Linked DNA regions of Homo sapiens: regions 1, 3 and 4 are each linked to region 2. Evidence: fine-mapped expression QTL. A gene starts in region 2. Each other region holds a variant in brackets. All regions are shown on one strand. Distances are from middle to middle. Region 1 overlaps CMTM7 (CKLF like MARVEL transmembrane domain containing 7). Region 2 holds the start of CMTM6 (CKLF like MARVEL transmembrane domain containing 6). Region 3 overlaps CRTAP (cartilage associated protein). Region 4 overlaps CMTM6 (CKLF like MARVEL transmembrane domain containing 6).

What was found. PIP is the estimated chance that this variant, and not a neighbour inherited with it, causes the effect.
Region 1: its variant is fine-mapped to the expression of CMTM6 in cerebellum (GTEx, PIP above 0.99).
Region 3: its variant is fine-mapped to the expression of CMTM6 in B cells (Schmiedel 2018, PIP 0.95).
Region 4: its variant is fine-mapped to the expression of CMTM6 in whole blood (INTERVAL, PIP above 0.99).

Annotation. Positions count from the first base shown.
Region 1 is chr3:32,397,779-32,405,737 of GRCh38, forward strand. The region is part of intron 1 of CMTM7 (CKLF like MARVEL transmembrane domain containing 7); the gene reads left to right. Among named protein-coding and RNA genes, the nearest start is that of CMTM7, 9.9 kb to the left of the region's middle. RefSeq lists enhancers at 3,203-4,072, 4,073-4,940 and a silencer at 4,031-4,210. The variant G/C (reference allele first, on the strand shown) is at 3,889.
Region 2 is chr3:32,499,618-32,505,215 of GRCh38, forward strand. CMTM6 (CKLF like MARVEL transmembrane domain containing 6) reads right to left here and starts at 3,235. Exons shown (of 4, transcript NM_017801.3): 1 at 2,991-3,235. The coding sequence starts at 3,128. RefSeq lists silencers at 2,946-3,175, 3,246-3,335.
Region 3 is chr3:33,138,342-33,146,300 of GRCh38, forward strand. CRTAP (cartilage associated protein) reads left to right here. Exons shown (of 7, transcript NM_006371.5): 7 at 4,054-7,959. The coding sequence ends at 4,107. Among named protein-coding and RNA genes, the nearest start is that of CRTAP, 28 kb to the left of the region's middle. The variant C/T (reference allele first, on the strand shown) is at 4,376.
Region 4 is chr3:32,476,458-32,484,416 of GRCh38, forward strand. It overlaps CMTM6 (CKLF like MARVEL transmembrane domain containing 6), which reads right to left. Exons shown (of 4, transcript NM_017801.3): 4 at 4,855-7,640. The coding sequence ends at 7,503. Among named protein-coding and RNA genes, the nearest start is that of CMTM6, 22 kb to the right of the region's middle. The variant T/TTTTG (reference allele first, on the strand shown) is at 3,845.

The DNA of each region.
Region 1 (7,959 bases), 100 kb before region 2:
ATGTGACCAAGACTGCCCAACCCCCTGGGAATGTAATCCAGCAGATTTGGCTTTCTCTCGGCCTTTATTCAAGATGGAGTCACTCTGGTTAGGATGCCTCTGACAAGCTGAGGGGATGAACAAGTACCAAAATTGGCTGCTCAGGAAGGTAAACGTTCTGATAGTTGCCCACCTTATGGAAGAGGATCAGAGGGCAAAGGTGATATTTAAATTGCATCTTGACAGATGAGTGTAAGTTTTCAGGTTGGGAGTGGCTCATTTACCCCTTTGGTGCCTTTATTCAATATATGTTTAAGTTAGAGATAAGTGGTATGTTAGGGTTGGGAAGGAAAAAGATGTAGCAAGAAATGAGCCAGAATTGGGGTAATTATCTTAATCTTCCCACCCCAGACATTTAGAAATGGGTGCCATCTTATCCACTGAGCATCTGCTATGCTGTTAATCTTACGCTATGTGAAATACAGCTATTAACAGGATAGACTCTTTCTGCCTGTGCAGAAAAACAGACTGTGACGTTTACATAACCATAACATGGACAGAGAATCAGAATGTATTTCACAAGCGGCAATGATGGAAATCTAAATATCTTCTGGGAGGTTCATTTATTTATTTGGCAAATATTTGTTGATCACCTACTGTGATCAGCTAACTAGTAGGTGATCACGACTGTGTGCTAGGGAACTGTGGAAAGAAGACAGATGAGCCCCTGCCTCTTTATACTCAAATAGAGAAAATAAACATTAATCAAAATGGTTATGAATATGTAATTACAAACAGGTTCGAAATTATGAAGGAGAAGTACTCAGTGGTATAGAGCATATACTAGGGAGTGTGACCTTTTGGGGATTAGGAAGGGTGTTTCTGAGGAAGGGACATCTGATGTGAGCATGAGGAAATTGCATCACAAGCAGAAGAAAGAGCGTTGGCCGGCGCAGTGGCTCATGCCTGTAATCTCAGCAGTTTGGGAGGCCGAGGCGGGCGGATGGCTTGAGCCCAGGAGTTTGAGACCATCCTGGGCAACATGGTGAAACCCGGTCTCTACAAAAAAATACAAAAATTAGATGGGTGTGGTAGCACGTGCCTGTAGTCCCAGCTACTCGGGAGGTTGAGATGGGAGGATCTCTTGGAGGTCTAGGCTGCAGTGAGTGGTGATCGCCACGGCACTCCATACAGCCTAGGTGACAGAACAAGACCCTGTCCTCCCATCCCCCCAAAAAGAAAAGAAAGAGCACGGACCCTGGCTGTTAGTGGAGGGAGGAGTATCTCTAGGGCTGGAGGGGAGAGAACAGGGTGGGAGTATTGGGGATGAGACTGGAGGTATGCAGGGACCAGACTCCAGGGTCTGCCAAATCTTGGTGAATATATAGTCCTTAGTCTAAGAAAAATCAGCAAAGCATCATATCAACTCACCATTCATGAGGTGACTCTTAACTAGGGGCTGTACCGCCCCCTAGGGGTTATTTTGGAATTTTATGGAACCTTTTGTTTTTTTTTTTTTTTGGTTGTCACAGGGATTAGGGTTATATTACATATACATCTTATTCATTTCAGAATAGTAATGCAAACTGGAATTTTGACAGTGCAATTTTGACAGTGCAAAATACTTTATATCCTAAAAGGATGTTTTGTCTGAAATAAGATTGAAGGAGCCTTCCCAGACTGGGTGCTGGGGGGAGTACACTAAGGTTTCTTGGCAGGAGAGCGGGTCCTGGAGACCCTCTAAGAGGCCTGGGCAATTCCAGGCTTCACTTTGAGAATTCACAGGTTAGGTGCCAAGTGGAATTCAGCTGTGGGGGATGTCAGCCTCTGGTCTAGCTGTGAATAGACCTGTTAGCACAGAATAGCCCAGCATCATCCAGAAGGGCCCATCCCTTTATGTTCTGCTTTAGATGTGTATGGCGGAGGGCGAGGAGGGGGTCTAGTTTGGTTCCCAAGTGCAGTCTGCACACCCATGTCCTACTTCCTGGAAGTTGGAGAGTAAAAAGCAGCAAAGAACCTCACTGCCAAGATTCTTTGACCTCAGCCCATTCCTGACAAGAAACTACTGTCAGTGACCAAACAAATGCAAAAATAAAATATAATAAAATAAGTTATTGGCTTTATTCCTAACAAAAGTAATACTTGTTCATTGTGGAAACTTTGGGGAGCACAAGAAGAAAATAGACTCACCCACTCCCTCTTCCCCAAGATTAAAAAGTAAAACTAAAGTATTTTATAGTAGATACACATAATTTTGGTGGTGGTTTGTTTTTCTTTTTTAATTGAGACAGAGTCTCAGTTGCCCAGGTTGGAGTGCAGTGGTGCGGTTTCAGCTCACTGCAACCTCTGCCTCCCAGGACCAAGCGATTTTCCTGCCTTAGCCTCCCAAGTAGCTGGGATTACAGCCATGTGCCACCACACCCGGCTAATTTTTGTATTTTTAGTAGAGACGGGGTTTCTCCATGTTGGCCAGGCTGGTCTCAAACCCCTGACCTCAGGTGATCCACCTGCCTTGGCCTCGCAAAGTGCTAGGATTACAGGCGGGAGCCACCTTGCCCGGCTGGTGGTGTTTTTCTTTAAACAAAACTAGGATGATTCTATACATATTTTGTAAATGCTTTTCTTTTTTTTTCTTCTTCTTCTTTTTTTTTTTTTTTTGAGGTGGAGTCTCACTCTGTTGCCCAGGCTGGAGTGCAGTGGCGCGGGCTCACTGCAACCTCCACCTCCCGGGTTCAAGTGATTCCCCTGCCTTAGCCTCCCGAGTAGCTGGGACTACAGATATGTGCCACCATGCCCAGCTAATTATTGTATTTTTAGTAGAGACGGGGTTTCACCGTGTTAGCCAGGATGGTCTTAATCTCCTGACTTCGTGATCCACCTGCCTCGGCCTCCCAAAGTGCTGGGATTACAGGTGTGACCCACCATGCCTGGCTGTAAATGCTTTTCTTGCTGTTTGTTTAGTATGTGGTGCATTTTGTTCGTCTGCAGTTTGGTTTCTAACAGTGCTGTCATAGCCAGTCATGGAGGTACCCTGGTTGTGTGTACCATGGTACACTGTGGCTCTGGGAGCTTCCAGTTCTACCTGCATACAAAGGAGGCTGTGATGAACCTCCATGTAGAGAATCCTGGTGTACAAATCTGTAAATACTTCTTCAGGATAATTGGCACTGACCTTTTCCAGAGAGAGAAATGAAGTGTCTCTTGCCCTTCTTAGGTGGCTGGCATAAAACAATTCTCTAGACTTTTTAACATCTAGAAATTAATGAGTGCCCCTTTATCATCCAAGAGTTTCAAGGAGCCAAGTGTGATAGTAATAGTATTTAAGCTGTAATCATATTTTTGGTGTCTGATGATTTAGAAAAGGAACAGTGACAGACAGACTAGAAAATTCAAAAATGCTTTTAAATGCTCTTGTATTTAAGTGATGGCCACAGTATCTGCATATATTTGAAGAATGGAAGTTCCACTCTTGCGGAAGGCCTTACCTATTCAGGCTGCAGAGCTTAAGGCTTTTGTAATCACCGGCAAGAATTCCCATCCAGGACACCTCAAATAACCACTTACAGCCCGACTGGGAATCACTGGCCCGAGTGAGGCGATAGGGATGGAAATACCAGCCCAAAGTCCTCCAGGCTGCAGGCAGCCAGGGCGTAAGTGGGTAGAGGAGGGGTTCGGGGTCGGTGTGAGCCCCATAGGTTTTCTGGCACTGCAGGGGCCCTAGAGACCCCGGCCCCGCAAGCACGCCAGGACCCTGGAATCCTAGGGGATTCCCTGTGTGGGCCGGTGTATTTATTTAAATTCCCGTTGCAGCGAAGGCCGCCCTTCTGTCTTCCTGCCAGCCCTGGCGCTTCCTGTGCAGCGCCACTGGACAGCCATCTGTTTCCTCCCCTCTGCCATCTGCCTCGCGCC[G/C]GGCCCAGCGTGCGGCCCTGGAAGCCTGGCTCGGCCGCCGCCCGCGCACGCTGGCCTTCTTTGTTACTACTTTGGCTCAGTGGTTTCCTGGGCTCGCTGCTCATTCCCTGGCAGGGCTCGCGGCGTCCGCGGCGACTCCTGGGATCGGCAGGGGCCTGGCTTCCAGCCCAGCGCCGGCAGCAGCCCGGGGGCTGCGGAGCGGAAAGGGGGCTGGGACGCGGTCACTGCTCCAGCCACCCGGCGCTCCTGGGCGGAAATCGCGAGCAGAGCCCTTCTCAGCCTCCTGCAGAAAACGCGCCTCACCTGACTTGTGTTTAAATCAGCAAGGGCAGTGACGCGGCTCTTCCTTTTCCTGGGGCAGTCACTCTCCTCCCTCTGCTGAGCCCGCTCTCTTTAGTTTACTTTAAGCAAAGGTTTTGTTTGTTTATTTGTTTGTTTGGTTTTGGTTTTTTTGAGACGGAGTCTAAAAAGTCTTCAGTCTGTGGCCCAGACTGGAGTGCAGTGGTGCAATCTTGGCTCACTGCAGCCTCCTCCTCCCGGGTTAAAATGATTCTCCTACCTCAGCCTCCCAGGTGGCTGGGGCTACAGGCGCGCGCCACCACGCCCAGCTAATTTTTGTATTTTTAGTAGAGACGGGGTTTCTCCATGTTGGCCAAGGTGATCTCGAACTCCTGACCTCAAGTGATCCACCCGCCTTGGCCTCCCAAAGTGCTGGGATTACAGGCACCAGCCACTGTGCCCGGCCAGTTTACTTTAGATAGTTAGAAAGACCGATTGATAACCAGAGAGGCGGTAACCCGCAGTTTCCACTTACTACTCCCAAAGGGTTGCCCTGAAGCTTCAGAAAAAAGCTGTGTCATGCTCATTTGTTTTATTTTATTCTATTTTGTTTATTTTATTTTATTTTATTTTTCGAGACAGAGTCTCACTTTGTCGCCCAGGCTGGAGTGCAGTGGCATGATCTCGGCTCACTGTAACCTTCGCCTCCTGGGTTCAAGCAATTAATTATCCTGCCTCAGCCTCCCAAGTAGCTGGGATTACAGGCTCCCGCTACTGCGCCCGGCTAACTTTTGTATTTTTACTAGAGACAGGTTTCACCATGTGGCCAGGCTGGTATCGAACTCCTGACCTTGTGTTCCGCCCACCTTGGCCTCCCAAAGTGTTGGGATTACAGGCGTGAGCCACTATGGCCGGCCACTCATTTTTTTAAAGAGAAAAATGAAGATCCTTCTGAAATAAATGGGAAGGGGAAAAGGAGAAGTTAATTAAATGCTTTTGGGTACAGAGTGAAGTGGAGCCTTCTGGAAAGCAGAGAGAATTACTGTATCGTGACTTCTGAATACTTTGTCTCTTTTTCCTCTTCAGATTTCCTTATTCCCTGAGAAGCCAGCGTCAGCTCTCAACATTGTTTGTGAAAAAATCTACACTTTAAACGTTTCCTCTTAAGTTATGAGAGTGGTACTTAACTAAATAATAGCACTTTGACCTCCTTAGGTGACAGCCACTAGGCTAGGTGGTTTATGTTTTGTTTTGTTTTGCTTTTTGTTGTTCTTGTTGTTTGTTTTTGAGACAGGGTCTCACTTTGCCACCCAGGCTGGAGTGCAGTGGTGCTATCTCTGCTCACTGCAGTCTTGACTTCCTGGGCTCAAGCGATCTTCCTGGCTCAGCCTCCCAAGTATTAACAATTGGGGCTACAGGTGCAGGCCACCACGCCTGTCTAATTTTTTGTAGAGACACGGTTTTGCCGTGTTGCTAAGGCTACTCTTGAACTCCTAGGCTCAAGCAATCAGCTCACCTCGGCCTCCCAAAGTGCTGGGATTGCAGGCATGAGCCATGGTGCCGGCCGGGCTAGGTGTTTTTTATATGTGTTACCTTGTTTAATCCTCACAACAATATTATGAGGTGGGTCGTATCATTATCCCCAACTCATCGAGGAAACTGAGGCACAGAGTCATAAATACTGAAGGTGGATTTGGGGCCAGGTGGTCCAAGTCCACCACTTGAGCTCTTAAAAGGACAATTTGGGGTCTTTTTTTCATGATCATTATGTTGTGTATATTTTCCTGTGTCATTAAACACTGAAAATGATGTTGTGATCACTGCATTCAGTCCATTATTTGGTCGTACTATATAATTTGTTCATTTGGCTCTTCCTTGATGGGCAGGCTGTGGCAGATCTAGAAGGAGGTGCTATGAGACATAACAGCAGGTGCTAGTGATGACTTCATCCTTTGCCAGAGATGAATTCAGCTGGAGTGGGGAAAACTCCTCACTGGGGTATTGAACGGACTAAGTATACACCATATTTTAGGAAGCATTTTCACATTACCCAACGTTATTATTATCTTCATTTTTATTTCTAAGTTCCTCCAGGAAGGACTGGGAAGAGAGAGAGGATCTAAAGTTTCAATTCCTGCTCTATTATGTCTGCTGATTTTACATGCAATTTCCCTTTGTTTAATCTTTTCTTTCTTTCTTTTTTTTTCTTTTTTTTTCTTTTTTTTTTTTTTTGGAGACAGAGTCTCACTCTGTTGCCTAGACTGGAGTGCAGTGGCTCAATCTCGGCCCACTGCAACCTCCACCTCCCAGGTTCAAGCAATTATCTTGCTTCAGCCTCCTGAGTAGCTGGGATTACAGGTGCATGCCACCATGCCCTGCTAATTTTTGTAATTTTGTAGATAACGGGGTTTCACCATGTTGGCCAGGCTGGGCTCGAACTCCTGACCTCAAGTAATCCCCCCTCCTTGGCCTCCCAAAGTGCTGGGATTACAGGTGTGAGCCACCGCGCCCAGCCTGTTTAACTCTTCTAATGACTCTGTGGAGTATTCAGTTTTTCCTCCTTTTGCTTGAACAGAAGCTGAGAGGTTAAAAGTTAAATACATAGCTGTCCAAAGTTGAATACATCTGTTAAGTTGTGGAGCCAGCATTTGAACCCAGGTCCAGCAAGTCTTCTTTTTCCACCGTGGTGTGCTATCTCTCCATGTATGGAAAGCCGTCTCCCACACTAGCCCACCATGGTATGCACACCTGAGGGTGACTCCCAGTCAGTCACATCCTGTGTAATTCCATCCTCTTGAGTGTGAGTGGAATCTCTGACTTGCTTCTAACCAATGGAATATGGCACAGGTGGCAGGATGTCATATGCCAAGGTGAAGGGATGTTACAGAAGCAGTTAGAGTCCCAAAGGAGTTGATTGTGAGTTAAAAGATTTTCTCCAGGTGGGCCTGCCCTCATCAGGTAAAAGCCTTAGAAGAAGTACTGGGTCCTTCCCAAAGGGAGAGAGTCTCCTGCTGGCTCTGAAGAAGTGAACTGCCTTGTTGAGAGAGGGCCTGTGAGGGGCCATGTCACAAGCATCCAAGGGTCATGCCTAGAAGCCAGAGCAGCCCTCAGCTGACAGCCAGCAAGAAAACGGGCCTTCAGACCTATGGTTACAAGAAACTGAAAGCCACTAACAGCCATGTGAGCTCGGAAGAGGACCCCAAGCCTGGCCAACCTCTTGTTGCAGTCTTGTGAGACTCTGAACAGTGGACTTCTCCCCAGACTCCTGCTCCGTGGAAACTGTGAGAAGATAAATGAATGTTGTGTTAAGGTGCCAAGTTTGTGGTAATTGGTTGTGCAGCAGTAGATAACTAACGCAGTCACAAAAGCCTTTTTATCCTGCATCAAAGCTGGATCTCTGATGGCTGCTCCTTAGCAAGGGAAGATGGAGCAATAGCAGTGCAGGGGGCAGCAGGCTCAGTGGCCATGTTTATCACTGGGCTGTGGTCACATGTCATTAGATTCCTGTGGAGTAAATCCATGTGTTAAGTTATTGCTCTTGGCATCCTGTGGCCTGTTTTACATGCAGGAGCTCATTCATCATTACCATATCCCTATGAGATGTTAGTATTCCTACTTTACAGATGAGGAAACTGAGGCAGGGAGTTTAAATATCTTGTCTGAGCCAAGTGTGGTGGCTCGCGCCTGTGGGCCTATCTACTCAAGAGGCTGAGGCATGAAGATTGCTTGAGCCCAGGAGTTCAAGGCTGCAGTGACCTATGATCTATGCCACTGCACTTCAGCCTGGGTGAC
Region 2 (5,598 bases):
AAAAACTGCATAAAGTTAGGACTCCAGTAACTCCTTACACTAAATTCTCAACTGAGTATTTCTTCTTAAGCTCTGGAAGGGTGGATGGTAGTTGGGGGATGCTTAGGGTTTTAACAAAACTTAGGTCATATCTAAATGGCAGACACAGCTATGTTAACTTCAAGAGATAGAGAAGTTACGTTCTTTTATCTCTAATCTCCTCTGTGTACAGGCTCCACTCTCTATCCCTTCAATATTCAATTCAGTTCTGTAATAGCAAACCCCATGGAGCCTCAGAGGTTTGAAAAAAAAAAAAAAACCTTAAGAGTGCAAAGAACCTCAGAGGTAATTCAATTCAACCTCCGAAGACTCTAATGTAAGAATTTCCTAAGTATATACACAATGTCTGGTTTTTAAGTTTTAGAGCAGGCTTTTCTCTTGTAGGATCTTTGAGATTCTGTTAAGATTTATGGGTCCAGAATAATATACTCAAACATATAAGTGTACAATATTTTGAATAAAATTTCACAGGGTTTGCAGGTCCCTTGTTAAAACACCTCCTCTTCTGATTACGGGTTTCTCCATTACAGTTGTTTCCTTACTGGAGCTCGCAATTCTGTTTAGTTTTTTAAAAAAATTAAACATTTAAAGTAAAACAACCAATCTATCTAAAGGAAGAATTTGAGTTAAGGCAAAGACCTTGCCTATAGCCCCAGGCTGGAAGACAACTTTTACCGACTTCATATGTAACCTTCTTGGGACTTGCTGGATAATTCCTGTAATATACTGTTACTGTGAAGAGATAAGACATTATCAAAACAAACAAAGGAACAAAAAGACAACCATCAAAGTGAAAGGCAGTAATGAAAAAGTACTTTTAAATCTCCACATTAAAGAAAGCATTCCTGTAACATGACAATTTCCCCATAAACAAATAAATGGATTTCATAAAGAGATATTAGTTTTTATTTTTTCTCCATTTCTTCTTATGAATGATGGAGAACTAATAATAGTCTAACGATCTTTTAAGGCAAATTCATCTTCTCTGTGTCCAAGTATAACATTTACCACAAAAATTTCTGGTTGTGTTCCATGTTTTCTTCTATAACAGCAATAAGGAAGGAAACTGGTTATGTTCTATTCCAAAGATACGAAACTACAGTTTACTAAACTATAAGAAGGTAATCAGAAAATTTACTTTAGCTTTGCCACTTTTTATTAGAAAGAAAATAATAAAGGCAACTGAAAACAGGAGATTTTGTGGGCAGCAAACCAATACAGATGATTTTTTTCGAGCAGCAAGAATGCTTCAGATGGGCTGGGCGCAGTGGCTTACGCCTGTAATCCCAGCACTTTGGGAGGCCCGGAGGGCGAAAATCACCTGAAGTCAGGAGTTTGAGACCAGGCTGGTCAACACGGCGAAACCCCGTCTCTACCAAAAAAAAAAAAAAAAATCAGCCGGGCATGGAGGTGCGTGCCTGTAGTCCCAACTACTCGGCACGAGAATTGCCTGAACCCGGGAGGCGGAGGTTTCAGTGAGCCGAGATTGCGCCACTGCCCCCAGCCTTGGCGATAGAGCAAGACTCGGTCTCAAAAAAAAAAAAAAAAAAAGCTTCAGATGAATATTCTTTTCTGTTCTAAAGAGTTCTACTATTCACGTAGAAAATTTTAGCTTTACTGCAGAGAAATACAGCTAATACCTAAAAATCATCATGTGACAGCTGACAAGAGAAGAGAAGGAAGAAGGAAGAAGGTAGAAGGAACAGCTTATGCAAAGGAACAGTGGCAGGAAAGAGCCCCTGATGCCTCGTAATAAATTAAAGGTGGCCAGTGTGGAACCACCTAGAGGGAGACTGGGAGAAAGATAAGGCCAGATCCTACTGGGTTCCATAGGCCACATTATCACTTGCTTTCAAATGATTTCCCAGTCATCAGCAGATGTGATCATTTTGATCGCTAAACAGCAGTGCCGATTTTCCGACTTCTGTTTTTCTATTCAATAAAAGTAGGTCACTAGAGTTCTAAGAATTTAACTTCGGGTCATTTGAGTTGTAAGAATTTAAGTTCTTTCCAAGGAAACCAATGAGCTAATTTTTACTTAGAATGGTTAAAAAACAAAACAAAGTAAGACAAAACTCATAAACATCATAAGCATTCGGATTTTTCCTAAACTGGTTCTATTGCAGAAATAGAACCTAAACTGTTTCTATTTTTCCTAAACTGGTTCAACCATCAGTGGTTGGAACAGTACATAGGAGCCAACACGACTGTAAAGTGAATAATTTAAATCTCAAAGATGCTTTGATGTTTTCACGAACAGGTTTATGGTACTTCAACTGCTTAAAATAAACTCAATAAAATGGAAAGATGCATACCATGTCCTAGTTCAGCTATCCGCACATACTTACAAAAAGCTGTCCTTTTGACTTTCCACTTAGAACCCATATTGCTCAATTTTGAAATAATTCTTTTCCAGTCAATATAAAACTTTTAGAAGACAATTTACCGGACACACATACACACACATCTCAATGCCACGCGTGGTATCGCAGGACTTTGTCCAGCAAGTTAAACTGCCCCCATGGGCTCGCAGCAGGAAAACCGCAAGAGCCAGAGAAAGATAAACAGCGCTTCACAGTCTAAATACAGGCACTGTGGGCGATAATGCAGGGTAGCAGCAGAGAGAAGAGAGGAAAGTCGCCATAGAGGATGAGTGAAAGATGTTGAAGTGGCTGACTTGGGTCTCCGACGCATTTCCTGAGCCCGCCTAACAGGCTGGGTGGCCCCAGTTCGTGGGATCCCGATGGGGAGAGCCTTGGGACTGAGGGGCCGCCCGGCGGAAGGGCGGAGGGTAACGCCCCCTTCCCCAGGCTGAGAGGGAAGGAACTAGAGGTGTGGAAACCTCCTTTTACTGAACAACCAAGCTGAAACGAAGGAGCTCGGCGGCCTCCCAAGCCCGGGCCAGACCCCGCTCCCCAGCCCGGGCTCGCCCTCCCTGACCGCGGACTCACCAGCTGCAAGCCCTTGAGAACGCGCCGGAGCAATGGGAGCCGGCCCATGAAAAAGTAGGCAGCGAGGCCGCTCCGGGGGCCTCTGGCGGGGCCCGGGTCCTCCTCCGTAGTGGGGCTGTACACCGCTCCGTTCTCCATCGCCTCGGGCCGGGGAGCGCGGCGGCCGCAGCAACCGCGCCGTTGACTTCTCGGACTCCAGAAGTCCCCGGTAGCCGGGAGGCGGCCGTCACTTCCTGGGCCTTCTCCCCGGCTTCCGCCTGACTCCGCCCCTTCCCGCCCCCGCCCTTGGCCCGCCCCGCCCCCTCTCAGCAAATTTGCTTGTTAGCTGTTGGGATTCTTCCGACTTTCATCCAAGAATTGAGTTCTTTCTGTGAGCCTTTGATGGATTTCTCACCTCCCTCCATCTTTCATCCTCCTGACATTCATTCACTTAGTATTTTTGCGTACTTTCGGTGTGCAGTGAACCCCGTTCTAGGTACTTGGGTGACAGCCAAGTACTACCCAAAATCACAGGATCCCTAGTAACAGAGACAGACAATAAACAAGAAAACAGATGGATAGCAATTTCAGATAGTGATAAGTGACGTGAAAATATGATACGAAAATAATGGATTCAGCATTTCTGGTGGCTTGATAAATTTATTAAAAAAAAAAAGAAGATGGAGGAGGAGGAGAAGAGGAAGGAGAAGGAAAAAAGGATGGAGAATTGGGTGCTCTACTTAAATGGCCACTACTAAACTGAGTGGTCAGGAAAGGCCTCTCTGAGGACCATGATCTTTGAATTGAATGAGACTCAAAGTGTGAGAAGCCAGGCTTGTAAAGTTCTGGGGAGAGCCTTTCACGAAAGTGCAAATGTCCCGAGGACCAAATGAGTTTGACTCAATCTGAAGCCCAAAGGCCTGTGTCGCTAGGAATAAGTACGGGAGGAAAGGAGATGTTGGAGATGTAGGCAAAGGCCAGATAATGTGGAGGCCTTGCAGACCAAGGGAAGAATTCGTATTTCATTTGAAGTACAATGAGTTGTCTGTAAGGACTTTCAGAATCGCTCCCTCCCGCGTCTCCCGAAATTCCATTTAGGCTCACTTTTCAAAATCATTTCCTTTTTCTCTTTCTTGGTCACCAACTGCTACAGTCACATATGTTAATTTTGTGTGAACTTGTCAAGGAATGTAATTATATTTTAGCAACTGAAGTTGATTGAGTTACAGGATGTTCACAACAATATAAAGTAGGTTCGACAGTATAAAGTCGGTTACATTCATTTTCAAATGAGAAAACTGAGGCCAAGAGGCTGAAATCATATCCAAGGTCAAACAGCCAGGAGCAGCTGGAATGCAGGCCTAAGCAGTCTGACTCGAAACCTTGCTGCTAAACGCTAACCCAGAAAACGTCAGCTTCTAACTCATCTCTCCATTGGAGTCTCAAAACCCATGGAAGAGAGAAGGGGTTTCTGCTGCCATCAGCTGCTACATCTTCTCCGTGGCCCCAAACCTCCCTTTCTTCTTCCAGTAACAAACAAAAGCTCCCATTCAAATGAATAGAGACAAGTAGATACTGCCCTGCAGGGGCCACCTACAACCAGCCAGAACTACCCTTCTGTCTCTGATTACATGCACTCTGAATGTCCTCCCAAGGCCAAGATGCCACCAATTCTGTCCAACAAGGAAGGCCACTGTATTTTCACCAGGGCTACAAGGATTCATTGCCCCATTATTCTTCAAGTCACTATCATCCCAAATTAGACACTACTGATGTCTAAAAGTTCCTTTGAAATTCATCCAAAATTAAGATGAGTTGATGACTAGAGAGATGGATAAAAGATTTGTGATAGGCCAGGCGCAGTGGCTCACGCCTGTAATTCCAGCACTTCGGGAGGCCGAGGCAGGTGGATCACCTGAAGTCAGGGGTTCGAAACCAGACTGACCAACATGGTGAAACCCCGTCTCTACTAAAAATACAAAAATTAGCCGGGCGTGGTGGCGTGTGCCTGTAATCCCAGCTACTCGGGAGGCTGAGGCAGGAGAATCGCTCAAACCCGGGAGGTGGAGGTGGCAGTGAGCTGAGATCGCGCTACGGCACTCCGGTCTGGGCAACAGAGTGAGACTCCGTCTCAAAAAAAAAAAAAAGCAGGCCGGTCGCGGTAGCTCACGCCTGTAATCCCAACACTCTGGGAGGCCGAGGGGGACGGATCACGAGGTCAGGAAATCAAGACCATCCTGGCTAACACGGTGAAACTCCATCTCTACTAAAAATACAAAAAATTAGCCGGGCGTGGTGGCGGGCGCCTGTAGTCCCAGCTACTCGGGAGGCTGAGGCAGGAGAATGGCGTGAACCTGGGAGGCGGAGCTTGCAGTGAGCCGAGATCACACCATTGCACTCCAGCCTGGGCGACAGACCGAGACTCCGTCTCAAAAAAAAAAATCATTGTTAAAAAAACAACAACAACAAGGATCTCTAATAAAGCAACTGCAGTAACATATTAATGGTAATATTTAGGTGAAGTATACGGGTGTCCACTGTACAATTATTTCAGCATTTCTGTATGTTTGAACATTTTCAAAATAAAGTATTGGGAGGAAGTTACAAAGAAACAAGGATACTTTGAGAC
Region 3 (7,959 bases), 640 kb after region 2:
TGGCTTCTTAATATTGTCTTCTAATCCATGAACATGAGAAGTCTTTCCACTTATTTGGATTTTTTAAAAATTTATTTCACAGTGTTTTCTTATTTTATTATTCCTAAACATTCTATTCTTTTTTAAAAAATTAAAATAAATTCTTTCCAACCCCTAGTATTCAAGCATTTTATTCTTTTTGATGCTATTATAAATGAAATTGTTTTCTTATTTTCACTTTTGGGCATATTCTAAAAGAATAGAAATACAATAGATTTTGTGTATTGATTCTGCAAACTTGCTGAACTTATTTATTAGTTTGTATGTGTATGTGTATTATTTTTCTTGCGTAATTGTTCTAGTTAAAACTTCTAGTACTATGTTGAATAGAAGCAGAGAGAGTGGGCCTGGCACAGGGGCTCATTCCTCTAATCCCAGCACTTTGGGAGGCTGAGGCAGGAGGATCACTTGAACCCAGGAGTTTGAGACCAGCCTGGGCAACATAGCAAGACCCCATCTCTACAAAAAATAAAAAAATTAGGCTGGGTGTGGTGGCTCACACCTGTAATCCCAGCACTTTGGGAGGCTGAGGTGGGCAGATCACCTGAGGTCGGGAGTTTGAGACCAGCCTGGCCAATCGGTCGAAATCTTGCTTTACTAAAAATACAAAAAAATTAGCTGGGCGTGGTGGCACATGCCTGTAATCCCAGCTACTCAGGAGGCTGAGGCAAGAGAATCGCTTGTACCCAGGAGGTGGAGGTTGCAGTGAGCCGAGATCACACCACTGTACTGTAGCCTGGGTGGCACAGTGAGACACTGTCTAAAAAAAAAAATTAGCTAAGTATGATGGTGCACATCTGTAATCCTAGCTACTCAGGAGGCTAAAGTGGGAGGATTGCTGGAGCTCAGGAGTGGGAGGGTACAGTGAACCATAAGCATGCCACTGCACACTAGGCTAGGTGACAGAGCAAGACCCTGTCTCTCTGGAAAAAAAAAGAAGTGGAGAGAGTGAACATCCTTGTCTTGTTCCCAGTCTTAAAAGGAAAAAGCATACAGTCGTCTTTCAGCATTAAATGTGAAAGTACGTTATTAGCTGGGGGTTTTTTGTAGGTGCCCTTTATTAGGTTGAGGAAGTTCTATTTTTAATTCGTTGAATTTTTTTTTTTTTTTTTTGAGACGGAGTTTCACTCTTGTTGCCTAGGCTGGAGTGCAGTGGTGTGATCTCTGCTCACTGCAACCTCCGCCTCCCAGGTTCAAGTGATTCTCCTGCCTCGCCCTCCCAAGTAGCTGGAATTACAGGCATGTGCCACCACACCCGGGTAATTTTTCTGTATTTAGTAGAGACGGGGGTTTCACCATGTTGGCCAGTCTGGTCTCGAACTCCTGACCTCAGGTGATCAACTTGCCTTGGCCTCCCAAAGTGCTGGGATTACAGGCGTGAGCCACCGCACCCGGCCTGAATGTTTTTATCATGAATTTGTGTTGAATTTTGTCAAATGCTTTTTCTGCATCTATTGAGATGGTCACATGATTTTTGTTTCCCTTGTTAATATTCATTATAAAAATGACTTTTTTGTGACTAATATTACATGATATAGATAATTTTAAGAAATATAGCCTTTTTGTAGGCATTTAGTTTGCTTCCAACTTTTTGCTTTTACAAATAGCATAGCAGGGACTAAATTGTTTACTTCTTCTCTAATCATTTCCTTAGAAAAAATTCCCAGTGGTGAAATTCCTGGCCTAAGGCTGTGAACATTTTCAAGACTTCTGATGTACAAGAACAACATATATAGAAAGCAAATCATAGATACTAGAACACGAAGAGATTTTTCACATGATTCAGTAAAGCTCTCTCATGTCACAGATAAGGAAACAAACTCAGAAAGGCAGAGTGGCTTGCTCATAGTCACACAGAGGGTTAGTAATCATCTAATGAACACGCCAAGCTTATTGCAGGCTTTAAAATTCCTAGGATTCTTGGATTTGGCACTTTCAAGATAAAAGGACTTTGTTGAAGGTTCTGGAGTAGTTTGCTTATTAATTGAGGCTTTAGAATTGTGGAAGAACTAATCCATCTCTAAAGAATGAACCATTTTCTTACTATATACCAAATTATGGCAAGTAATACTTTGAAATGAAAATATAACCAAAATCATCAAATTCTTAGTTAGTCCTTCCATTTTCCAAAGGACATAATACTCCTTTGAAACAAAGCATCAGTACACTTTAGCTGCTGATATGTGTGGCATTCTTCCTTATTATCTTTCTGGTGTTGAAATGTGTATAAGCACTCCTGAAAGTTTACGCACTGGTTCAGAATTTTGCAGAGGTTTATTACAGTTTCAGAAACTTTTTAAAACAGGCTGAAACAGATGCTTCAGGTTTCAAGTTCTGATGGTTGTTTGCTTCAGGGAAGTCCAAAAGAAATAGAATATAATTTGTTGGAAGGATGTATTGAGGGAGTGCTCTCAGGTAGGAACGGAATGAGGGTCAGGGGAAGGAGCTCAACAAATACGTGGTCTCAGCTGGAGTCAAGCTTCGCCTGCTCCCATGGGGGACTCTGGAGCATGAATTGCACCACAGAGTTGTTCTTGCCTTTTGTAGTCCCCCTTATCAGTCTGTCATTCGTTCTTCGTTGCCAGGAAGGGCTGGTGTGTAACCTCCCTGTCAAGACTGCTGTTTTTTTTTGTTTTTGTTTTTGTTTTTGGCCAAAGGCAATTGCCCAGAGAAGGGGCAGCTGCTAGCCATTAGCAAGCAGCCCTCACAGGAGTTGGGGATGAGTGCACTGGGAAGGAGATCTGAGTGAGGCCCCAACAGTATTCACTACAACAGCCATGCAGGGGATGCATTTCTTTCGTCTGTGCTGCCTCGGGCACTTATTACTAGTGAGCTAAAAGCAAACAATACCATCATCCCGCAAGTCACAACAGACACACAGCAGGATATAGTAACTCCCTAAGCAGAAGTCATAGCTATACACATAATCCCTCTACTATGCTGTGTTTTCCTTTTGGGGTCTAGAAAGCAACTGAAAAACAATTTTTCCAAGCTGTAGTGTCTACAGTTTGAGTTTCTAATCTCAGGCATGACATAGTAGAAGTATTTGATGATAATACTAAGACCCCCCATTTGTGTCTCATGTACTTGATAGGTTTTCCAGTTATTCCCAAATGCTGCAAGATTTTTATAAATTTCTCTGTGTTAAAACATCAAAAGGAGCCAACAGGCTCTTGGCCTGGGATGGTGAGCTCAGTGAAGGAGGTCGAGTTTTAGCAGGGTTGGTGGGGCCAGTCTGTGTTGACTCTTATGGAAGGGGCCTCAGCCTTGGTCATTCACTCATTCTCTGCAGAAAAGAGAATGGGTGTCATCAGCTGGTGGTCCAGGAGGGTTATAGAAGAGAAGTCAATGTGGAGAAAGAAATTGGGAAGGGTGCTGGGCTGCTTCAAGTTGAAGTATAAGGCTGATTGCAGAAGGAGGGAGCAGGTGAGCTCCTGGTACCGACACTGGGCAAGTGGATCCCACTATCCCTGTGTGTCTCTCCTGTAAGAGGAGTGATTGCTTCAGTCACACCAGCAGTATGTATGCAAGCACTCAATCATTCATCCTTCAACACATGTATTGAGCACCTTCTGTGTGCTGGACTCTGGGGAAGAAAAATCAACCCAGTCCCCTGGTCCTTGAGAAGTTTGGGTTCTGGTGGTCAAGGCAGAAAGGGAACAGATAGAAAATGTTCCTGTGGGAGACCTGCACACATGAGAGGGGAGGAAGGGGAGTAGGCAGAGATGCACACAGGAGGGCCACTTAGTAGAGCTGTTCACAGGCTGGGCTGTCCGCCTCACACAGCATGTTGGCGGATCTCGCAGAGCACTTGATACCAAGTTCAAATGGAGTGGAAGCCGAGGTCCCCTCCACAGGGAGAAATCAGGTCCTCTGGGCCCCAGACCAGCAGAAAAAACCTGTTTCAGCCAAAGCAGACAGTGGTGATGGCCTCTCGGGATACTGTTTCTGCTCATCAGTACTTTTAAAAGTCCAATAGCCCATTTAATAAAGTTGTCCTGTTGTCTCTTACAGGGAGAAGTTGTGGAATATGTGGATGACCTCTTGGAACTGGAGGAGACCAGCTAGCCCACAGCAACCAAAGAGACTTCCTCTTGGCGTTCAGGAAACACAGATTCTTTGTCCTTTTCCCAACAGCCCAGGCTGTTGATACCTCAGAGCCTTCTCTTTACTCTCCAAAGTGAAAGGGAAGCCCCCGTCTCTCTAACTGCATGTCATCAGGGGTGAGCCTGCCTTTCCTATCTTCACACCTGCCACCTCATGTTCACACCTATCTTTCTCACCTTTTTTTTGAGATGGAGTCTCGCTCTCTTGCCCAGGCTGGAGTGCAATGGCA[C/T]GTTCTCAGCTCACTGCAACCTCCGCCTCTTGGGTTCAAGCAATTCTGCTGCATCAGCCTCCCGAGTACCTGGGATTACAGGCATGTGCCACCACGCCCGGCTAATTTTGTATTTTTAGTAGAGACGGGGTTTTGCCATGTTGGCCAGGCTGGTCTCGAACTCTTGACTTCAGATGATCCATCTGCCTTGGCCTCCCACAGTGCTGGGATTACAGGCGTGAGCCACCATGCCCGGCCTCTTTCTCACCTTTACACCTGTCTTCTTATCCTCACATCTGTTTTCACACCTTCATCCCTGTCTTCCTCATGTTCACACTTGTCTTCCCCATGTTCATAGCTGCCTTTCTTACCATTTTGGTTTGAAGGGCAGTCTTCTCTGGCTTGTTTTTTTGTTTTTCCCAGAAAATCAGTATTATTTTTTAAATAAGAAAAACATTCCTAGAAGATGATAATTGTGAAAACCTCCTTTGGCTTATTTGCTTTTCCAGATTTTAGTCTCCTTTCTCCCCATCCGGGAAAGATGGTGGAAGACATAGGCTAAATTTCTCCAGCCTCACAATGGTCTTCACTTGGTCTGACTTGTACCAATTCTAGCACCCACTGAAAAACAAGTTGAGTAGAGAGTGTAGAGTGCAGAAATGTGGCTTTTGCCCCACTTTGCATCTCCAAAATTACAACGGTTGGCCGATCCCATTTGAGGACAATGCTTAGTTATAAGTCTCCGAGTTGGAAAAGGAAGAAAGCCAGAGCTGTCTAGTTTCATTCATTCTTTCAGTAAATATTTATTGAGTACCTACTGTGTGCTAGGCATTGACCTGGGAACTAGAGATACTTCACAGAATAACAGGGAAAGTTCCCTGTGCTCATGGAGCTTACATTCTACAGGGAGAAAGAGATAGCCAATACATAGGAATAAATATATACAAGGTATCATGTAGTGATAATTGCTGTGGAGAAAAATAAAGCAGGGGAGGGAGTAAGAAATCCTGGAGATGAGGCTGCAGTTTTAAATGGGGCCTCACTGGGAATGTGACGTTGAGCAGAGACGTTAGGGAAGTGGATCCTGGACAAGGCATTCCAGGCAGAGGAACAGGATGTGCACTGCCCCAAAGTGAGAACTTGCTCTACGTGGTCAGGAAAGAGCAGGGAGACCAAGCAGAGTCGTGGGCAGGGGTAGAATGGAAGGAGAGGCGGCTGGGGAGGACAGGTGGTGGAGGGCCTTGGCTTCTGCTAAGTGAGATGGGAACCACTGGAGGGTTTGAACAGAGGAGTGCCTTGATTGATTTATATTTTGCAAGGGTCATTCTAGCTGCCATATTGTGAAAAACTTTAGTGGACAAGGGCAGAAGGAAGAGGGAAGACCTGTTAGGAAGCTACTGCAAGGTTCCAGGCTTGGGCCTGGGCCACAGCAACAGCAGTGGTCAAATATCTAGATTTATTTTGAAAAGAGCCAATAGGATTTGCTGAGAGTTTGAATGTGGAGTGTAAGAGAAGGAAGAGTTAATGATGACATTAAGGTTTTTGGCCTGAATAGCAGGAAAGATGGAGTTACCAGTTACTGAAATAGGGAAGGATGGGCTGGGTAAGTATGGAATTTGGTGCAAAGCAGGCTGTCTGTGGTTGGAATGGGAGGTTCTGGCTGCAAATCAAAGTGGAGAGTTCTCTCAGGTCAGGTCTGCAGCAGAGCTCGAGACAGGGATCTGAATGCACTTGGTTTATTGTTGGGGGTGCTCTCAGAAGGAACCTGTGAAAGCCTTTATCAGTCATTTATTGGCTGTGAGAAGTTCTCTGGGAGTGTGGGTACATTTGAAGGCAAGTGACTTCAGTTGAGGGCAAGTCTCTGGAAAAGAGGCTGTAGGCATCTGGCAGCTACCATGCATGGTAGTGTGTTGGGGGTGGGGGTCCTGGGCACTGGCTGTGTGAAGGGATCTGGCAGGGCACCACAGCGCCCCCTACTGAACCATCAGCATGTCAGTGGCATTTAAAGCCATGCAGCTGGAGGGGCCACTGAGATTGTCTCTGAGTATTACTGAGAAGCAACAGAAAAGAGCCATGGATGGAGCCCTTGGGCTCTCTGGGAAATGGGAAATCAGCCAAAGGACTGAGAAGGAGTTACCTTAAGGTCAGAGAAAACCAAGAGAGTGTGGTGTTCTGGAAGCTGAGCTTTCTTTATTCAACCTCATTCCCTTCTCCAAATAAGCCACTTGTGTAGTTGGGCCCCTCCAGGGTTGAAGGCAAGAGGAGAAAGGCACAGCGTTTGGGAAACAAGACTTTTCCTGCAATAGCCTGGGAAGGAATAAAAGGATAGAGTGTTTGGGTTTTTGTGTAATGGTGGTTAATTGGGGTGGAACACTCACACGTTGTGCTTTTTCTGGGCTTCCCTTATCCCCCAGAACACTCTACCAACCTCGGGGAACTCGGGCACATCCTTCTGTTTCTCCTTCAGCTCTATCCTGCTTTCCTCATCCCTTCTGACACCACGTCCTCACTCACCTGCACAAGAATCCCTGCATCAGGTTCTCCTTTGAGGGTACCCACCCAGGACAGTCCCCTACCACTTCTGTCTTGGGCTGAAGTTGCCCACGTCCACAAAATCTGTACTCCCAGCGGGGGTGTTTGGCCCGAGGAGTCAGTGTTATTACTGGTGGATGCACCGTGTCCACAGCAGCCCCCAATCCCAGCGATGCGTCAGATCTTACGTGGCTTCCTGCTGGGGGAGATGGCCTTCACCCACGGGATGCCGGGTTCTCCTTTCTTTCCTCACCCCAACCTTTACTCCACCAGAGAAACTTCCTTTTGAACTCAGTGGGGAAGAGGGTGATGAGACAGGACTAGAAAGTAGTGGGGGACCCAGCGAGTGGACGCCCTGCTCCGGGATTCCTGAGTCTGTAAATAGTGTGCCCAGCAGCTGTGAACTCCCCTTATAGCCTCAGGCTGCAGTGTCCTTCCCAGCTGTGTGAGAAAATGAAAGCCGACGTCCACAGGGACCCAGGCAGGGTTGGGTGTTGTGACTCACTCCACCTCTGTGCCCTGCAGAGGTACTGTTGGGTCCTTGTCTTGTGAGCCTGGGGTGAGCTCTCTGTACATGTTGTTGTTCCACGTATGGGTTGACTTGGCATGCTGGGGGGTCCTCGTTCACTCTCTGAAGTTGGCCTCCTTTCACTGGGGATTGAAAAGCACCTCCACCCCTACCCTAGTGATGTCCCCTGAGGACCCGGGTGATAGTACAGTCAATATTGTCAGTACTTTGCTTTGATTGAAGGCTGTAGAGCTGAGTTACCAAAATTTCTATTTCAAAGGAAACCAAACCTTAAAAAAAAAAAACAAAAACTGGGCTGGGTCTTCCAAACCTACCATGAAACCCTGGTGTGCAGGCTGCACTCAATGACCTCAACCCAACACCTCCCTGAGTGTGCTTCTTGGAAGAGCCTAGAAGATTCCTGGATGGAGACCCCATTGGTTCAGCCTCAAGTCTGGCCCGTCTTCGAAAAAACAAACACATTTGTAAGCTTTGTGGGAGCTTCCAGGCCTGCTCTAAGATGCCTTGCTTGTCCTTTGACCCATCAGCATGGAGCTCAGTGGTT
Region 4 (7,959 bases), 22 kb before region 2:
TGGTGTGTACCAGTAGTCCCAGCTACTTGGGAGACTGAGGTGGGAGGATCGCTTGAGTCCAGGAGTTGAAGGCTGCAGTGATGCAGTGAGCTAGAGCACACCACTGCACTCCAGCATGGGCAATAGAGTAAGACCCTGTTGAGAGGGAGGGGAGGGAGAGAGGGGGCAAGGGAGACATGGAGGGAGGGAGAGAGGGAGGAAGGAAGGAAAGGACAGAGGGAGGGAGGGAAGGAGGGAAGGAAGGACAAATTTGGAGGTTGGTACATAAACCAAGGAAATAGAACAGAGAACCCAGAAATAAATCCATGCATTTACTGCCAACTGGTATTTGAGAAAGGTACCAAGAACGTACGTTGGGGAAAAGACAATCTCTTAAATAAATGGTGCTGGTTAATGGTAACTTGGGAAATGAATATAGTGCTGGGAAAACTGGATATCCATATGCAGAAAAATGAAATAGACCCCTCTCTCTCACCATATATGAAAATCAACTCAAAATGGATCGTAGACCTAAAAGATCTGAAACTACAAGAAGAAAACGGGAAATGCTTCATGAAATTGGACTGGGCAAGGATTTTTTTAATAAGACCTCAAAAGCACAGGCAATGAAAGCAAAAATAGACAGATGGAATTACATTAAACCAAAAGGCTGTGGCCCAGCAAAGGAAACAATCAATAGAGTGAAGAGACAATCTATAGAATGGGAGAAAAGTATTTGCAAACCATCCATCTGACAAGATGTTAATATCCAGAATATACAAGAAACTCAAACAGCTCAATAGCCTCCCCTGCCAAAAAAAAAACCTAATGCCCAAAACACCTAAATAGACATTTCTCAAAGAAAAGACATACAAATGGCCAACAGATACATGAAAAAAATGTTCAATATCACCATTCATCAGAGAAATGCAAATCAAACCACAATGAACTATGAGCTCATTGGCGACTATTAAAAAGACAAAAAATAGGGCTAGGCGCCAATGGCCCACGCCGGTAATCCCAGCATTTTGGGAGGCCAAGGCAGGTGGATCACAAGGTCAAGAGATCGAGATCATCCTGGCCAACATTGTGAAACCCCATCTCTACTAAAAATACAAAAATTAGCTGGGCGTGGTGGCGCATGCCTGTAGTCCCAGCTACTCGGGAGGCTGAGGCAGGAGAATCACTTGAACCTGGGAGGTGGAGGTTGCAGTGAGCCAAGATCACGCCACTGCACTCCAGCCTGGGCGACAGTGCAAGACTCTGTCTCAAAAAAAAAAAAAAGACCAAAAATATCAAATGTTGGCAAGGATTTAGAGAAAGGGAAACTCTTATGCACTGTGGGTGGAAATGTAAATTAGTACAGCCATTATGAAAAACAGTATGGAGGTTCCTCAAAAATTAAAAACAGAACTACCATATATGATCCAGCAGTCTAATTACTGAGAATACATTCAATGGTGGTGAAATCAGTATGTCAAAGAGCTATCTGCACTCCCATATTTATTGCAGTGCTATTCACAATAGCCAAGATACAAAATCAATCCAAATGTCCATCTACAGATGACTGGATAAAGAAAATGTGGCATGTGTGTACAGAAATACACGATAGAATATTGTTCAATCATAAAACAATGAAATCCTGCTTTTTTTTGCAGCAACATGGATGAACCTGGAGGACATTATGTTAAGTGAAATAAGCCAGGCACAGAAAGACAAACACCACATGATCTCATTCATCTGTGGAATCTAAAAAAGTTGATTTCACAGAATGAGAGAGTAGAATAACGGTTACCAGTGTCTGGGGAGGGTAGTGAGTTTGCAGGAGTGGGGACTGGGAGAGGTTGGCCAATGGATACAAAGTTACAGTTAGGAAGAATAAATTCTGGTGTTCTATTATACAGCAGAGTGACTGTAGAAATGAATAATGTAGGCGGGCCAGTGGTGGCTCACCCTTGTAATTCCAACACTTTGGGAGGATCGCTTGAGCCCAGCAATTCAAGACCAGCTGGGGCAACATGGCAAAACTCGTCTCTACAAAAACTACAAAAATTAGCTACTCGGGGGCACTGAGGTGGGAGGAACGCTTGAACCCAGACGGTCAAGGCTGCACTGTGCTCCAGCCTGGGCGACAAAACAACCCTGTCTCAAACAACAACAATGTAGTGTATATTTCAAGATAGCTAGAAGACTTTGAATGTTATCACTACTAAGAAATAATAAATGTTTAAAGTGATGGATATGACAAACCCTGATTTGATACAATGTACACATATATTGAAACATCATACTGTACTCCATAAATATGTATAATTGTCAATTATAAATAAAAAATTAATTTAAAAAAGGAATATTCTATACTTCCTAAAATGTTTAAAGGTTTACATCTTATATTTAGTACTTGATGCTACTTTGGTTTTGATGTATTGTGTGAATGCCTCACACCATCTAGTTTATTGTTTCAATGGGTGGCCCCTTCTCTGACATACAATGTTGCTTCTGTTTAAGTGGATATATATGTATAGGTCTGTTGCTGGCTTTCTTGGGCTATTTTTTATTACCTATGTTAATAACACAGACTTGATCAAACCTTAATTTCTGATAGTGCAATTTCAAAATTGTTTTATGCTTGGCTTTTTTTTTTTTTTAAGATGGGGTCTCACTGTGTCACCCACTCTGGAGTGCAGTGGCACAATCACAGCTCATTTCAGCCTCACACTCCTGGGAGAAAATGCTGTTAGGATCCTCTAGCGATCCTCCCACTTTAGCCTCCTTAGTGGATTGGACCACAGGTGCAGGCCACTGCGCCTGGCTAATTTCAGATCTGTTCTTTTTCCTCAAGATTGCTTTGGCAATCCAGAGTCTTTTGCACTTCCATATGAATTTTCAGATTATTTTTTCTATTTCTGAGAAATAAAGGTCAACAAACAAGTGAAAAGACAATCAGGTTCACCAGAAACAGGAAGAATACAAAAAAAAAAAAAAAAAGAGGCACCATTTCAGTACCAGACGAGCAAAAATGTTAAGTTGAACTAATATTAAGTGCATTACAAGAGTGGGGAAACCAGCACCTCATTCACTGCTGAGGGAAATATAAACTGGGTCTACCCTTTGGAGATCCATCTGGAAATATTTAGCCATGCTGAAATCATAACGTACCTTCTGACCCACCAGACAATTTAACTTCTAAGTAGTTACCCACCATGTAAATTCTCACATGTGCACAAGAAGAGATGTTCAAATACATTTGTTCCCTGTAATGTTAAGATGGTCAAAAGCTGAAAATGCTGTTAGAATTTTTCTATCAGTAGGAGAATAAGTAAATTGTGACATATCCATACAATGAAATACCAAACAGCATTTAAAATGAATGAACCAGAGTTACAACCTTGAAGCAAATATGGCAAAATGTTATAATCTATTAAAGGTGAGTGAGTGGAGTCTACAACAGGTATTATCCTCTGTGCTTCCAGTACTTGAAATATTTCAGGCCAGGCGCCGTGGCTCATGCCTGTAATCCCAGCACTTTGGGAGGCAAGGCAGGTGGATCACCTGAGGTCAGGAGTTTGAGACCAGCCTGACCAACATGGTGAAACCGCATCTCTACTAAAAACACAAAAAAATTAGCAGGGTTTGGTGGCATGCGCCTGTAATCCCAGCTACTCAGGAGGTTGAAGCAGGAGAATCGCTTGAACCCGGGAGGCAGAGGTTGCAGTGAGCCAAGATGGCGCCACTGCACTCCAGCCTGAAGGATAGAGCAAGACTCTGTCTCCAAAACAAACAAACAAATTCAAAAATTTTAAAAAGTAGCTAAATATAAAAATGTTGGGGAAAAGACAATACTTCTCCCCCCACCCCGTTGTTT[T/TTTTG]TTTGTTTGTTTGTTTGTTTTTTTGAGATGGAGTTTTGCGCTTGTTTCCCAGGCTGGAGTGCAATGGCATGACCTCGGCTCACTGCAACCTCCGCCTCTGGGGTTTGAGCGATTCTCCTGCCTCAGCCTCCAAAGTAGCTGGGGTTACAGTCATGTGCCACCACACCCAGCTAAATTTTGTATTTTTACTAGAGATGGGGTTTCACCACATTGGCCTGGCTGGTTTCGAACTCCTGACCTTAGCTGATCCGCCTGCCTTGGCCTCCCAAAGTGCTGGGATTACAGGAGTGAGCCACTGCGCCCAGCCTCCCCCTTTATTATATCAATTTCTATGACACACATTACTGTACTTGTAGAAAAATTTGGCCACTGAATTCACCAATGTACCCAGATGTCTTATGAAATAAGTTTTTCTTACTGTTTAAGACACATTTAATTAGATTTTCTGCTTCTTGCAGCTTATTGCATATTGATACAATGCTCTTTATCAAAACAAAACTCAACTCTAAACTCTGAAGAATGTACAAATTCCAGTGAGTTCTTGATGACTATAAAGACCCTGTTATTCTCACACAGGGTGGAGGCAGGAATTTCGCAAACTACACAAATAGCTGTAGTTTTACCAGCACCACCCTAATAATTTTGCTTCACACTTTCCCAATCATTGAACAGTTCCTAAGATAATGTGCCTATTTTGTTTTTAGCATTGTTAGCCACATCTAGAAATGTGACAAGGAGTCTAAATTGCTTCTTTGGAAGTATTTAAAGCCATTTGTAAGTCTTCCTCTGTGGTTCCCTAAAAATGTTGTTTAAATGTGTATTCTAACTTTCCAACAAGAGGGACAGTTTATGGATGGGAAATGGATTTGTTTCTTTTCTATCCTAGATATATCTAAAATCTAGTATTCTATATAGGCACTCAACAAGATTGTGCAGCCAACTCCCACAACTACAGAGACAGCTTTTCATTTAAACATCACACTTCTGTAATAAACACTTACAAAGGTAAGAACGTTTTAATTAAATGGATTTATTTAAAAAGACTATAAAATCTGACATCAAGAGAGATAAAAAAAAAAGACCCATAAGATTTAAATTGACAAATATAAAATGATTGGCTACAATGTAAAAATACATTTCCCAGCCCCCAAACAAAACACAAGTATAGTAATTATAAAATTTTTGTACTGTGAGTTCATTTCTCTTATAATTCTTGAGAACCATTCTAAGCAATCTATTTGTATAAAATATAAAATTTATCATAACTGTTAATTTAAAAATTATTTTAAATTTGAGTTTATTGAATTTGCCATTTTTTTGTACATAACAGTGGTTTCTGGTCCCAAGTTCCCCTTGAACTTATTTACTACAATGGTCTTTTTACTCCTATTTATTTCCTTCTACAATAGAAAAGAAAGGCTAACCATTCATGGGTCCCATAAAAAACAATGTGAAGGAAGGTTCTAAGAGTGACCAAATATACCAGTGAACATACTATCTTTCTGAAAAAGAAAGAATTAAGTGACCAACTAAGAGATCCACTTTTGCACCAATGAAACACATGGAGGTGAAACCTCAGAACAAGCGGAGCTTAAGCTCAATGACAGTATGTTTTATATGACAGGCCAGCTGAGAATGTATCTGTCAATCCTGACTAAGCCCAATACATGGGTGGTGACCCTGAGGTAGCCCAGATGATATGCTCTGAATTTTAGATAGGTCTAAATCACAATGGTACAGTCTGATGTGAAACTTTAGTCTACCTACCATAAACTCGTTTTCTGAATCAGTCCTTATTCATAATTAGACCCAAAACCCAGCTATTTCTCCTCTCTTAGATGACATGCCCAATAAAAACAGCATCCATGATTGGTTTCATTATCTCCCAATTAAGTAGTGGTGACACCACCACTAACACTAGTATCCAAACTCTGATACAAATCCTAAAGGTATTGAGTCAGTAAGACAGAGCAGAAGCTATGTTGGGCCATACTGACCAATTTCTGAGAACCACATTAGCCACATTCATGCAATTAAAACCCATCTAAGACACACAAATGGCAGATGAGAAAAAAAAAAAAGGATGAGGTCATTAAACTTTATCACTGGAAACATGATTCCACTGTTTCAAATAGGAAACCTACCCTGGGAGACTTCCACCAAAGTGCAGAAGGACCTGATGCACGGGCTCATCATCTTAACACTAGAGTCCCAAGTCAAAACTCTAGGAGGAGGATAAGAAAGGTCTAGTCTGTGAATCACCTGGACAGAAAGGTCATATCCCAAGTGCCCTGCCTATCTGTGACAGCTGCTAGCCAACAGACAATTCTGGTTATGAAGTTATCTCTTGAGAATGGCTTGATTCTCTTATGCCACCAACAGTATTAGTCTGGGCAGGGTTCCCTGGATATTTACTTTTTTTTTTTTTTTTTTTTGCCAAAGACAAACTAGAGCAATGCCTATGTAAGAACAAGGACTCTCAAGATCCTGCTACACAGTATTCACAATCAAAAGGGCCCAAGATTCAGGACCACCTAAAGACAACTGACAAAAAGTGTCAGAGCCAGAGGCCAACCTCTGCTAGATGAAGCAGCAGCACATGACTCCATTTCTATCTGATAAGGAGACAGAGAAGAGGCATCTCGAACAGATGAAAAACCAAAGGCTGGTGTCCTAAAAAAAACAGATTGGCTTCAAAGAAAACACTAAGGAAGACCCACAGAGCTGTATTAATTTTAGTAAAAATAATCATATGCCAACAGGGGAATTGAACCACTTTCTAAATCATAGTATGAACTCATCTCTTCAGATACTTGGTAAGTGGTCAAAGCTTGTTTTTATAATTACTTTCACTGTCTTGGGCAAAAAGTCTTTCTTATCTTTGGTCCTTAGGTGTGGTATCAGTTTCTTCCATTTTTTTATGTGTTACAAAACAATCTTTTTTTTACTTGACATCAACAACCAAGGTGCAGTATAAACACGAAGTTGCTGATATTGTTGCTTTTATACACATAAAATACCAACATCTCCCATACATTTTATAGGCTATACGAAGGTCTCAAAGAATTAATAACCGTTATCCAAAAATATTATAACATTTAAGGCTGAGTGAAATACAGTAAAGCCTGGTAATATATGTTAAGGAAAAAAACCTAGACCAACATTTTAAATATTGGTTTCTTAAATATGTTAAATTCCCATTAACAGAACATAATCTAAGCATCAAAACAAACAGCTAAGCAAATTAATTTAAAAATAAAACAATTTCTAAGTAGATGAATATAATCACGATGTTTATACAGCTATAAAGCATAATTTGGAAGCTAAGCCTAGTAAAAGAATGACCTGTAACAGAATGACAGAATCATTTATCAACCGTTGAGCTGTGTGATTTAAAAACAATTGTTTTCTCCTCCTCCCACCAAAATCTCCATTTGAGATAAGTTTCAATTATTATTTAAAAAAAAATTTTTTTTAACTTATCTGGCCTACTTTGTGGTGACTGACACAATATTGATAAAACTGCCTTCTTGACCTTCCCCTTGCTCTCCAAAAGAAGTGGTTTAAACAATTAACAAATTTTACAAGAGCTTCTGCCAGGGCTCAGGCACCACAATGCAGGGTCACTACCTTAGGTAACATCTGCTCCCCAGAGTCTTTAGGCATTAAGTGGCTCAGTGAGGGCTTCAGCCCTAGTGGTATTTTCAGGTTTTCTCAGCTGGGACTCCTGTCGTTTTTCATACAGCATAGTGATAAAGTCAAGTAGGAACATAAAACTTGCTATAAATCCAAACACCTGAGGAAAAAAAGGAGGAAAGGTTATATGAGAATTTTGGAATATAATCTTACATTTCCTACTTGGCTTGGAGAATGTTTCATATAAACAAGATGTTCATGAATTTTATCTTATACACGACTACTCTTTAATGGTAAAAAAAATTTTTTTAAGTCATCAAAAAATGGAAAGAAGTTATAAAAGAAAAACTTCCAGAATAATGGCTATTAGTCAAAGTCTCACAAAATATTAATGTTCTGCCTTATGTGTGCATGTTTATATGTGGAGGGCTAATATATGAAAGTAGGGTTAACAGATAAACATTAAATCCTATAAAATG